Linked DNA regions of Homo sapiens. The protein of the gene in region 3 interacts with the protein of the main gene of each other region in a pairwise test. Each region holds a gene or a part of one and is shown on either strand. Other genes may lie near its edges.

Region 1 (2,896 bases), on a different chromosome or scaffold from region 3:
CAGAAGATACCTGAATGTTTGTTGAATGAATTTACTTGAGATCTTAGCAGGTCCAGCTGTTGAGTTTCTTCAATATTGATAACTCAGCAAATCTGTCTGGTGGTTGTCTGTCAGTCAGGATCAACTAAATTAAGCCCTAATAACACAACTTTATTGTATTAACACACTGAGATTTAGCAGTTGTTTATTACGCTACATGCCCAAAGGACAGCAGGGGAGTTCTCTTCAACAAAGTCACTTAAGGATCTGGAATGAGAGGTTTCATCTCAACATATACTTCTATGATCACACAGGCAAGAAAAGGAAATATGGCAAATTAAAGACTGGCCCTTAAAGTTCCACTCAGAAGTGACATATATCCCTTTGCACTGGTTTCTTCGGGCAAAGCAAGTCATATAACTAGCTTCAGAATTTTTTTTAAACAATGTACTTAGTAATGTAGTTTTCACCAGAAAAAAAAATGTAGCATGAATTTGTAATTATGTATTTTGCCCTGAATTATCTTGGCTCCCTACTTCACTTTAGAAGAGACGTATCAACCTAAAAGCAGAGGTTTATACTGCACAAATAAAGAGTCAAAAACCAAGACAAAGGTATGCAGTTGCAAAATGGCCATTTATTGCCTACAGGGGAAGGAAAGGGAGGGAGAGAGGGGAAGTACACAGGTGCAAGGAAACAAGCATATATTTAGCCCTATACATCATGTGTGAGCAGTAACCAATCTCCAAAATGGAAAAAAATATTTTGTTATCTGACATAGTAGTTAAGGTTCTTAAGCACCTCCCTTCTGAGCTGCCACAAGATTTAAAAGGCAGGACTGCTTTTTTTTAGTCAATGTTCACATTAATGAAAAAATACTACCAACCGTGTCCTTTTGCACGCACACTTTGTACAGTGTCTATTGTGAAAAACATCTCAGCTGAGCAGTTTTGGTCAAGATTCAGACCTCATCAACTGTTTAACTGTAATAAATAGAAAAATAAAGCAGCTGGTGATTTTGTCAGAGAGAATGTGTTCAGTAAGAGTAGAACCACTTTCTCCAGGGATGGCAGAGAGTGTTAAATGGTTAAAACACCTACAGAACCAGTCTATTAAACATTAAACACTAGCAAGCTACAATTACATGGCACTTCATTAAATAGTCTAATTTAAAAAAAAATCTTAGATTTTAAACTGATTACTGAAACACAAAAACAAGTTGATTTAGTCCTTGGCTTTTTCTTAGAACAAAAGCAAAGTAAATATACAACCTAAAACAGCAGAATTTGTTTTGGAATAGTATCAATGGAAACTACCAAGTATTCAGGGAAAAAGTTACTAAAACACCTTGCTTGGTTTTACAGTCATGTGCTTTGCTTTGCAACCATTAGAATTAGATAGTTACAAAAACACTTTATAGGTCACAGAATGACTCAAATGTATGCAAAATAATGAATTCTTTAACTTAATGCCAGGTAATGAAAATAAATGAACCTTTCCCTACTCAAAACGATAAATTGAGTGGAAAAGTAGATTGTCCCATGGACAATTAGTTGGCACTTGTTATATAGTTGAAAAAAATCACAACAGAAGATATAAATTAATCGATGGTGAATTTGACCAACACCCTGGCCCTTATAGAGAGAAAAAGTACATACACACTCTCTTTAAAAAAAAAAAAAAAAAAAAAAAAAAAAAAAAAAAAAGCCCTCCATACTTCCCCACTCCAGAGACAACAAAGCCAAAGATGAAACATTCAACCTTCTCAAAATATTCCAAGTAGTTCTATTGAACTCTGTATCTCAGCTTCTCCAAGATGAAAAAGTTGTTTGCATTTGGACAACAACTGTACGAATGCCCATAGTGCACATCTCAGTGCTGCTGGTGTTTAAGAAATTTGTCACTCATAACCCTGAACAATTCCAGATCCAGTGTGCAGTAACACAGCCATCCAAATCCCTCCCCTTGAAAAGTTGGCAGAGCACCGCTCAGGAATTTCACAGGTAAGGGAATATATTTTTAGCAAGTTAAGCACAGAGAAAGGACAGTACAGTTTCTAAGTAAATACAGACCCAGATACTGCATCACTTACTGCATCAAGATTGAAACAAGCAGCAGGATACTAAGTCTGTTTGGTAAGAAGCAAAGCCATTGTTTGACATCAATGCTGAACCAATTTTGTGACTTCAGATAACTACAAACTAAATTAAATTGGTACATATAACAATTGATAGCTTGAAAGACAATACATCAGTGATTTGAAGTTAATACGAAACTGAAATGAGCAAGAAAGGACCACTTCTGAGAGGGTTACCATGATTCTTACGCTTTAGAGTTAAAAGTGACAGACATACAACTGGAAAATTATCTAAATTTTGAGAGATTGTTCTAACAAAAATAACTAGTACTAGGCACCAAACTAGAGCCTCCGAAAGATTCTGAAAGCTGAATGGACCATGCTACCACCATGCCAAAAGAGTCATATCACTTGGCATTTGTATATCCTTTCCATAATGTGATTTGTTTCTGATGACATACTTCTAAAATGCAGTTCAATGCTACTCAGTTTATACAATGTACCATAAAAAAAAATTAACAATTAATAAGCACAAATGTCCTTATGTCATAGGCTTTGAAAGTGAAAACTATTTTACTTAAAAAATATTCTATTACTTCAATGTCATGTCTGTTGAACGAAGAACTCAACATGCTTATTTTCCTTTGGTTCCAGGAAAAACCCAAGTCTAACCAAATGTATGCCACAAGGAACTGCCAACTGGGTTAAAGCTTGGTATTTTCCTGGTTATCACCCTATTTCCTGGTGTAGGACCTGGGGTTTAATAGAGACATTTACATAAAAAAGGTATTTGGTTAAAACAAGAAATATGCATGCTCTTCCTTACCACCTTCCTGGAAA
Region 2 (3,655 bases), on a different chromosome or scaffold from region 3:
CTGGAATTTAGCTATTATTTTATATGTGCAAAGTGGCATATATATGCCATATAGATAAGGATAGTCATTTAGTATGACATAATAGAAAAAAGCTTGGAAGCATCCTATATATTTCATTAATGGTGATTAAGTAAAGTGTGTGATACAAGTGTAGAATGGAGTATTAAATTGCCTTAAAAAATGAAGTGTTCTGTATCTGTAAGATAAAGAATGAATCACCAAAATACATAAAATGACAAAACTGGCTGGGCATGTTGGCTCACGCCTGTAATCCCAGCACTTTGGGAGGCTGAGGCGGACAGATCACCTGAGGTCAGGAGTTTGAGACCAGCCTGGTCAACATGGTGAAACACCGTCTCTACTAAAAATACAAAAATTAGCTGGGTGTGGTGGCGTGCGCCTGTAATCTCAGCTACTTGGGAGGCTGAGGCAAAAGAATTGCTTGAACCCGGGAGGCGGAGGTTGCAGTGAGCCAATATCGTGCCATTGCACTCCAGCTTGGGCAACGAGTGAAACTCTGTCTCAAAAAAAAAAAAATTCAAAACTCAGTTGTATATTTTTATGCACATATGTGTACAATATCTCTTAAAGGACATATAAGAGACTGTTGTTTGCCTCTGGGAAGGGAATTGGGGTCTGCAGGGGAAGGGGTGGCAGGGAGAGTTTCTCTTCTCTGCATATTCTTTTTTTTTTTTTTTCTTTAACAACACTCTGTAGTCCAGTGCTGCATATTCTTGTAGCTTTTGAAGTTTAATATCTGTTACATAATTTTCTACAGAGCAGCAGTTTTTGAGCAATTGTTATTTTGTTTTTGTCTCATCCCATTGCTCCTCAACCTGGGTCAGATGGAGCAGCCTCTTCAGTAAGCACGAAACATGCTCTCATCATGGATGAAGTAGATGGCATGGCAGGCAATGAGGATAGGGGAGGAATTCAGGTAATTCAAGTGCTGTATTTTTGCAGTTTCACTGTTGATAATTTAGATTGTTAGAACATTGTCATTCTCTCATACTTAGGGCAGTTAAGGCATGTTGCTGAGGAGATTTTTAGAACCTAAAATAGCTTGTGTGGTATTTGTCATTTTTAAAATAATTATTTTTGTGTTGCAAACTTGCCTTTCAGGAATTAATTGGCCTGATAAAACATACTAAAATTCCCATTATTTGTATGTGCAATGATAGAAATCATCCCAAGATTCGCTCTCTGGTTCATTATTGTTTTGATCTTCGTTTTCAAAGACCTCGGGTTGAACAGATTAAGGTATGATGATTGAAATTTTTTTTCCATCACACTAGCCTATTTATTTAAGGGTCAATTTTTAAAAGTACCTGATAAATATTTTTAAAATACCTGATTATATGAGTTAAAAATCATTGAGGACTCCTCCCTTGTCAATTTCAGGGTGCTATGATGTCTATTGCATTTAAAGAAGGTTTAAAGATTCCCCCTCCAGCTATGAATGAAATAATTTTGGGAGCCAATCAAGATATCAGACAGGTAAATTAAATATATATCATGTAACAGTTGTTGATTATTTTTAACTAATGCTTTCAACCTTGTAGGGATGGGGAGCAACAGGATTTTCCTATCTTGACGTTGTCTTATTTGTGATTCTTTTAGGTTTTACATAATCTGAGTATGTGGTGTGCACGAAGTAAAGCATTAACCTATGACCAGGCCAAAGCTGATTCTCACAGAGCCAAAAAGGATATCAAAATGGTAAAATAAATGTCCATGTCTTAGTTACTTTCCTAAGCCAAAACACTTCTTGTTCTGTAGGTAGCTTGATAGAAGTAGTTATTATAGTTCCTTGGTATGCCTGTGGAATCCAGGGATATATAGTAGGAAGTATAGACAGCTGCTGAAAGTGTTTCTAATTCAAATGATTTTTTTCTCAAAGATTGTCAATGTCAATTATAAATTTTGAGAAAGGGATAAATTTTAAATTATACTTATGCTTCAACAATTATAAAATGGCTTTTCCAGAGTTCTTTATGTTTGGCTTTCGTGTTTGGAATGGTTTTGCACTGTTCAGAATAATCCATGTCAAATGGTTTAGTTTAATGACCTCTCTGAAACTAGAGGTATGTATCAGTTTCCTCTGTGTTGTATTTTACCTAGTTGCTAATCAGAATTTATAGTTAGAGCAATGATTAAGCAGGTTCTAAAAAAGTTAATACACTTTCTTATTTATTTAAATTTTCAAAATTTTTGGTAGAGACAGGGTCTCGCTATGTTTCCCCGACTGGTCTTGAATTCCTGGCCTCAAGTGATCCTCCTGCTGTGGCCCCCAAGGTGCCGGGATTATAGGTGTGAGCCACCACGTCTGGCCTATACGCTTTATTTTTTAGAGCAGTTGAGGCTCAGGAGTTTGAGACCAGCCTGGCCAACATGGTGATCCATGCCTGGCCTATGGATTAAAAATGGAGTGGAAGGTACAGAGAGTTCTCACATACTTCATGTCCCCCTCACACGCACAGCCTCTCCCACTGCCAACATCCCCCACCACAGTGGTATATCTGTTACAATCGATGAACCTACAGTGATACCTCATTATCACCCAGAGTCCGTAGTTGACATTAGCATTCCCTCTTGGTGTTGTACGTTGTGTGGTTTTGACAAATGACATGTATTCACCATTGTAGTATCATACAGAATAGTTTCACTGTCCTGAACATCCTCTGTGCTCTACCTGTTCATTCTTCCTTTCCGCTTTCCTCCCTACAACCCCTGGCAGCCACTGATCCTTTCACTGTGTCCATAGTTTTGCCTTTTCCAGAATGTGGTATAGTTGGAATCATGTAGTATGTGGACTTTTCCAGTTGGCTTTTTTCACGTAGTAATGGCATATAAGGTTCTTCCATAACTTTTTTGTTTTTGTTTTTGTTTTTTTTGGTTTTTTTTTTTTCGGAGTCTTGCTTTGTCACCCAGGCTGGAGTACAGTGGTGTGATCTTGGCACACTGTAGCCTCTGCCTCCCGGGTTCATGTGATTCTCTTGCCTCAGGCTTCTGAGTAGCTCGGGTTACAGGCACCTGCCACCACACCTGGCCAATTTTTTATTTTTAGTAGAGACGAGGTTTTACTATGTTGGCCAGGCTGGTCTCGAACTCCTGACCTCAAGTGATCCGCCCACCTCAGCCTCCCAAAGTGCTCGGATTACAGGGGTGAGCCACCATGCCCTGCCCCCCCATGTCTTTTCATGGCTTGATAGCTCACTTCTTTTTAATGTTGAATAATATTACATTGTGTGAATGTACCACAGTTAAATTGTTTATTTACCTACTAAAAGGACATCTTGGTTGCTTACAACTTTTGGTAATTATAAATAAAACTGCTTGTAAACATCCTGTGCAGATTTTTGTGTGAACATAGTTTCATTTGGGTGAATACCAAGAAGCGTGGTTGCTGGATCGCGTGGTAAGAGTATGTTTAATTTTGTAAGAAACTACCAAACGGTACAGTTTTGCATTCCCACCAGCAATGAATGGAATTCCTCTTGTTCCATATCCTCGTTAGCATTTGGTGATGTTACCGTTTTGAATTTTGGCCATTCTAATAGGTGTGTCCCTCTCTTTTTTCAGGGCCCATTTGATGTTGCCCGGAAAGTGTTTGCAGCTGGAGAGGAGACTGCTCACATGTCACTTGTGGACAAGT
Region 3 (3,655 bases):
GGCCACGCTGGTCTCGAAGGCCTGACCTCTAGTGATCCGCCCGCCGCGGCCTCCCAAAGTGCTGGGATTACAGGCGTGAGCCACCGCGCCCGGCCCCAAGAGTCAGAAAGTTTTTTACGCCAGGCACAGTGGCTCACGCCTGTAATTCCAGCACTTTGGGTGGCTGAGGAGGGAGGATCGCTTGAGCCTAGGAGTTTGAGACCAGCCTGGGCAACATAGTGAAACCCCATCTACACAAAAACTAAAAAAATTTTAAAACATATAAAAATTAGCCGGTGCGGTAATGTGTGCCTGTGTTCCCAGCTACTCAGAAGACTCAGGTAGGAAGATCGCATGAGCCCAGAAGGTTGAGGTTGCGGTGAGCCATGATCGTGCCACTGCACTCCAGCCTGGGTGACAGAGTGAGAGTCAGTCTAAGAAAGAAAAAAAAAATGTAAAGCAAAAACTTACAGTAAGATAAATTATATTGAAGAAGGAAATATAGTTGCCAATTTAGTAGCCTAAGTGCACCATGTTTATGAAGTCCACAGCACAATAACCTCCCAGGCCTTCACATTCACTCACCACTCAGACTCACCCAGAGCAACTTCCAGTCTCACAAGCTCCCTTCCTGGCAAGTGCTTTATACAAGTGTACTGTTTTTTATCTTCTATTTTGTATTTTTACTGTACCTTTTCTATGTTTAAATCCACAAACAACATTGTGTTACCGTTGCCCACAGTATTCAGTGCAGCCCCGTGCTGTGCAGGTCTGTAGCCTAGGAGCCATGGGCTGTGCGTGTAGGTGTGTGAGTGCCCTCTGCGATGTATGCACGGTGACGAAACCGCCTAAGGAAGCATTTCTCAAAAGGCTTCCGATGGTAGGCGGTTGTATGCGCTCAGCGATCGCCAGTCGTGCCCACTCCACAGCGCCTCCTGGCGAGCCGGGCTGCCCCGCGCAGAGCAGCTCCACCTGTCCCTCACCTACGCTCCCGCTAATCCCCGGCGACTTCAAAAGCAGAGGTGCCTCAGGCAGTGTTAGCACCCTGGCAGCGGCAATGCCTGGGGCCGCGCTCACCAGCGCCCCGATCCCGGAGCTGCCGTCTCTCCACGCGGGCGCCAGGCCTCAGGCCTAAGGCCTCTCCCTCCACAAGTGCAGCTCGCTCAGGGACGTTGGGGCACCCTGCTGTGGCTGAGCCCCACAGCCTAAACCAGCGCCAACGAGGATCCTCTCAGCCACAGCGGCCCTGGTGGGAGAGGGGTGGGAGGACCTCAGCAGCCTTCCCCACCTACGACCCCCGCAAAAAGAGAGTCCTTGGAGTTGCCGTGTGGTGAGGGGATGGCCTGTGAGCGCGGCTGTGGTTTCCACGTGGCGTCTGGGATGGGAGAGGGAGTCAGATAAGCACATCTGCCGGCAGCGGCTGAGGAAGCCCGTGGCCAACAACTGTGGTCTACCCAGGTTAGATGCCTCCGTTAGATGCAGAAACAGAAACCACGGCCCACGAAACTTTGTTTTGGTGCAGGAGAGGGGCTCTCATGATGATCTTTAAATCTATTTTAGGGCCGGGCGCGATGGCTCACGCACTTCAGGAGGCCGAGGCGGGTGGATCACGAGGTCAGGAGATCGAGACCATCCTGGTGAACACGGTGAAACCCCGTCTCTACTAAAAATACAAAAAAAATTAGCCGGGGAGGTGGCGGGCGCCTGTAGTCCCAGCTACTCCGGAGGCTGAGGCAGGAGAATGGCGTGAACCCGGGAGGCAGAGCTTGCAGTGAGCCGAGATCGCGCCACTGCACTCCAGCCTGGGCTACAGAGCAAGACTCCATTAAAAAAAAAAAAAAGTAAAGTAGAAGTTCCTCTTCAAAGACTTTCCTCCCCATCTAATTAGGAATAAATAGTAACTTCTCTTAGAAGCAAAATTTATTCAAAGACCTGTGCTAACATTCTTATATATCTGCTAGCCATAATAAAAAAAATCAATGTACTTTATGTTCTTAGCTCCCACAATTTAGCCTAAATATTTGCCCTGGTGTGCCTATACTGGTCCAAGCAAGCATTAGGTCATAGCCTGTTCCTCTTCCTTATTTGAAGGTGTTTTTACCTTTCTCAGCATTCCACAAGTTACTTCCTTCTTCCTTGAACTCCTGAACTTGTGATCCGCCTGCCTCAGCCTCCCAAAGTGCTGGGATTACATGCGTGAGCCACTGTGCCCGGCTGTTGATGTTTTTTGAGTTAGGGTCTCACTCTGTCATCCAGGCTGGAGTGTAGAAACATGATCATAGCTTACTACAGCCTTGAACTCCTGGGCTCAAGTGATCCTCCTACCTCAGCCTCCAGAGTTGCTAAGACTACAGGTGCACACCCCTACACCTGGCTCATTTTTTTTTAAGACATGGGGTCTTGCCATGTTGCCCAGGCTGCTCTTGAACTCCTGGGACCAAGTGGTCCTCCCACCTCAGCCTCCCGTGAGGCCTCACTCAAAGTGCTGGGATTACCGGGATGAGCCACCACACCCAGCCGTATTTTGTTACAGCACCCAGAACGGACTAAGCCAGTGGGAGACACACATGTGCAGTCTTTCAGCCTGTTACTTGGCTGCCTGAGAGTGGGTCCTGGGCCTAGAACATCTCCTTACCAAGAGATAAGGGGTCCCCCCAGTTTGTGCTGGGTGTAGTGCCTCGTGTGGAGGTCTCTGTTTCCCAATGTGTGCCCCTTTGTTCTGCTCAGGCGTGTGCTTCACGTGGCACCTAGACAGCCCCACTGTTAGGTCAGGACCCCTCTAGGAGGGACCTGCTGGCCCCGGCCTGACAGCCACATGGGCAGATGGTGCTCTGGCCCGGTCTCTGGTCTGTGAGCAAAACCTTGCTCCATTCATTGTTCGACCGTGCTGTGTTTCCCTTGGCGGCTCCAATACCAAGATCCAGAGGCAGAAAGTGGTCAAACTCAGTAGCCCTGATCATACGAACACATGCTACTCACTTAGCAGTTCTTACTTTTGTTCTTTTGTGATTTACCCATTACCCCTGGATTTCTCTCATGTGTCTGCGTGTCCCCACCCCTGATTTTAATCTCTCCAGCCACACAGAGATCCGCTTGGCTCCCAACCGAGCCGGGCCCCTCCCGTCGCCTTGAGGCCTGCGCAACAGCAGGTCTAGCTGCAGGGGAGCCCTCAGCATTTCCTTCTGGGCCCGCCCAGAATCCTGGGTTCACTGAGGGAAGATGATCGGGGCAGCAGGACTTTCTCAACACACGCAGCATCTGGTGCGGGTGACACAGGAGGATGGGTCTTAACTGCGAGGCTGGGAAAGGACAGGAGGGGCTGGGGTGAGGCCCAGAGGCACACAGCAAACACACAGCTGCACTGACTGCCCTCGCCCAGCACTGAGCCCCAGGAAGCTTGGGGAATCTGTGGGGCAGGCGGGGAGTTTGGAGGCCGGGCTTCCTGGGAGCGCTGGGGACAACCTCACACAGTCCTTGGATGGGGCATCCTTGAGGCCGTCCCAGAAGCGGCACGCATGCCCTGGGGTGCAGGAGCACGGAGCTGGGGGCCCCGGGCTCACCTGCGATGGTTCTTTCTGGGACCTTGGACTCTTCCCATCTTCCTCCTCACCGAAACTCCAGTCCTGGGGTTCGACCGAGTCCAGAGATACCAGAACTGTGCGGGAGAAAGGGATCG

The links.
Region 1: the proteins of ZSCAN1 (region 3) and CNOT6L interact in a two-hybrid assay, tested with the Homo sapiens proteins (one large-scale study listed by BioGRID and IntAct).
Region 2: the proteins of ZSCAN1 (region 3) and RFC1 interact in a two-hybrid assay, tested with the Homo sapiens proteins (one large-scale study listed by BioGRID and IntAct).

Annotation. Positions count from the first base shown.
Region 1 is NC_000004.12:77,712,791-77,715,686, forward strand, and holds the end of CNOT6L (CCR4-NOT transcription complex subunit 6-like), read right to left. Parts: 3' UTR 597-2,896; downstream 1-596. UniProt on the Homo sapiens protein: Has 3'-5' poly(A) exoribonuclease activity for synthetic poly(A) RNA substrate.
Region 2 is NC_000004.12:39,300,342-39,303,996, reverse strand, and holds part of RFC1 (replication factor C subunit 1), read left to right. Parts: intron 1-845; coding exon 846-937; intron 938-1,122; coding exon 1,123-1,260; intron 1,261-1,401; coding exon 1,402-1,497; intron 1,498-1,620; coding exon 1,621-1,719; intron 1,720-3,582; coding exon 3,583-3,655. UniProt on the Homo sapiens protein: Subunit of the replication factor C (RFC) complex which acts during elongation of primed DNA templates by DNA polymerases delta and epsilon, and is necessary for ATP-dependent loading of proliferating cell nuclear antigen (PCNA) onto primed DNA.
Region 3 is NC_000019.10:58,040,429-58,044,083, reverse strand, and holds part of ZSCAN1 (zinc finger and SCAN domain-containing protein 1), read right to left. Parts: intron 3,635-3,655; coding exon 3,540-3,634; intron 1-3,539. UniProt on the Homo sapiens protein: May be involved in transcriptional regulation.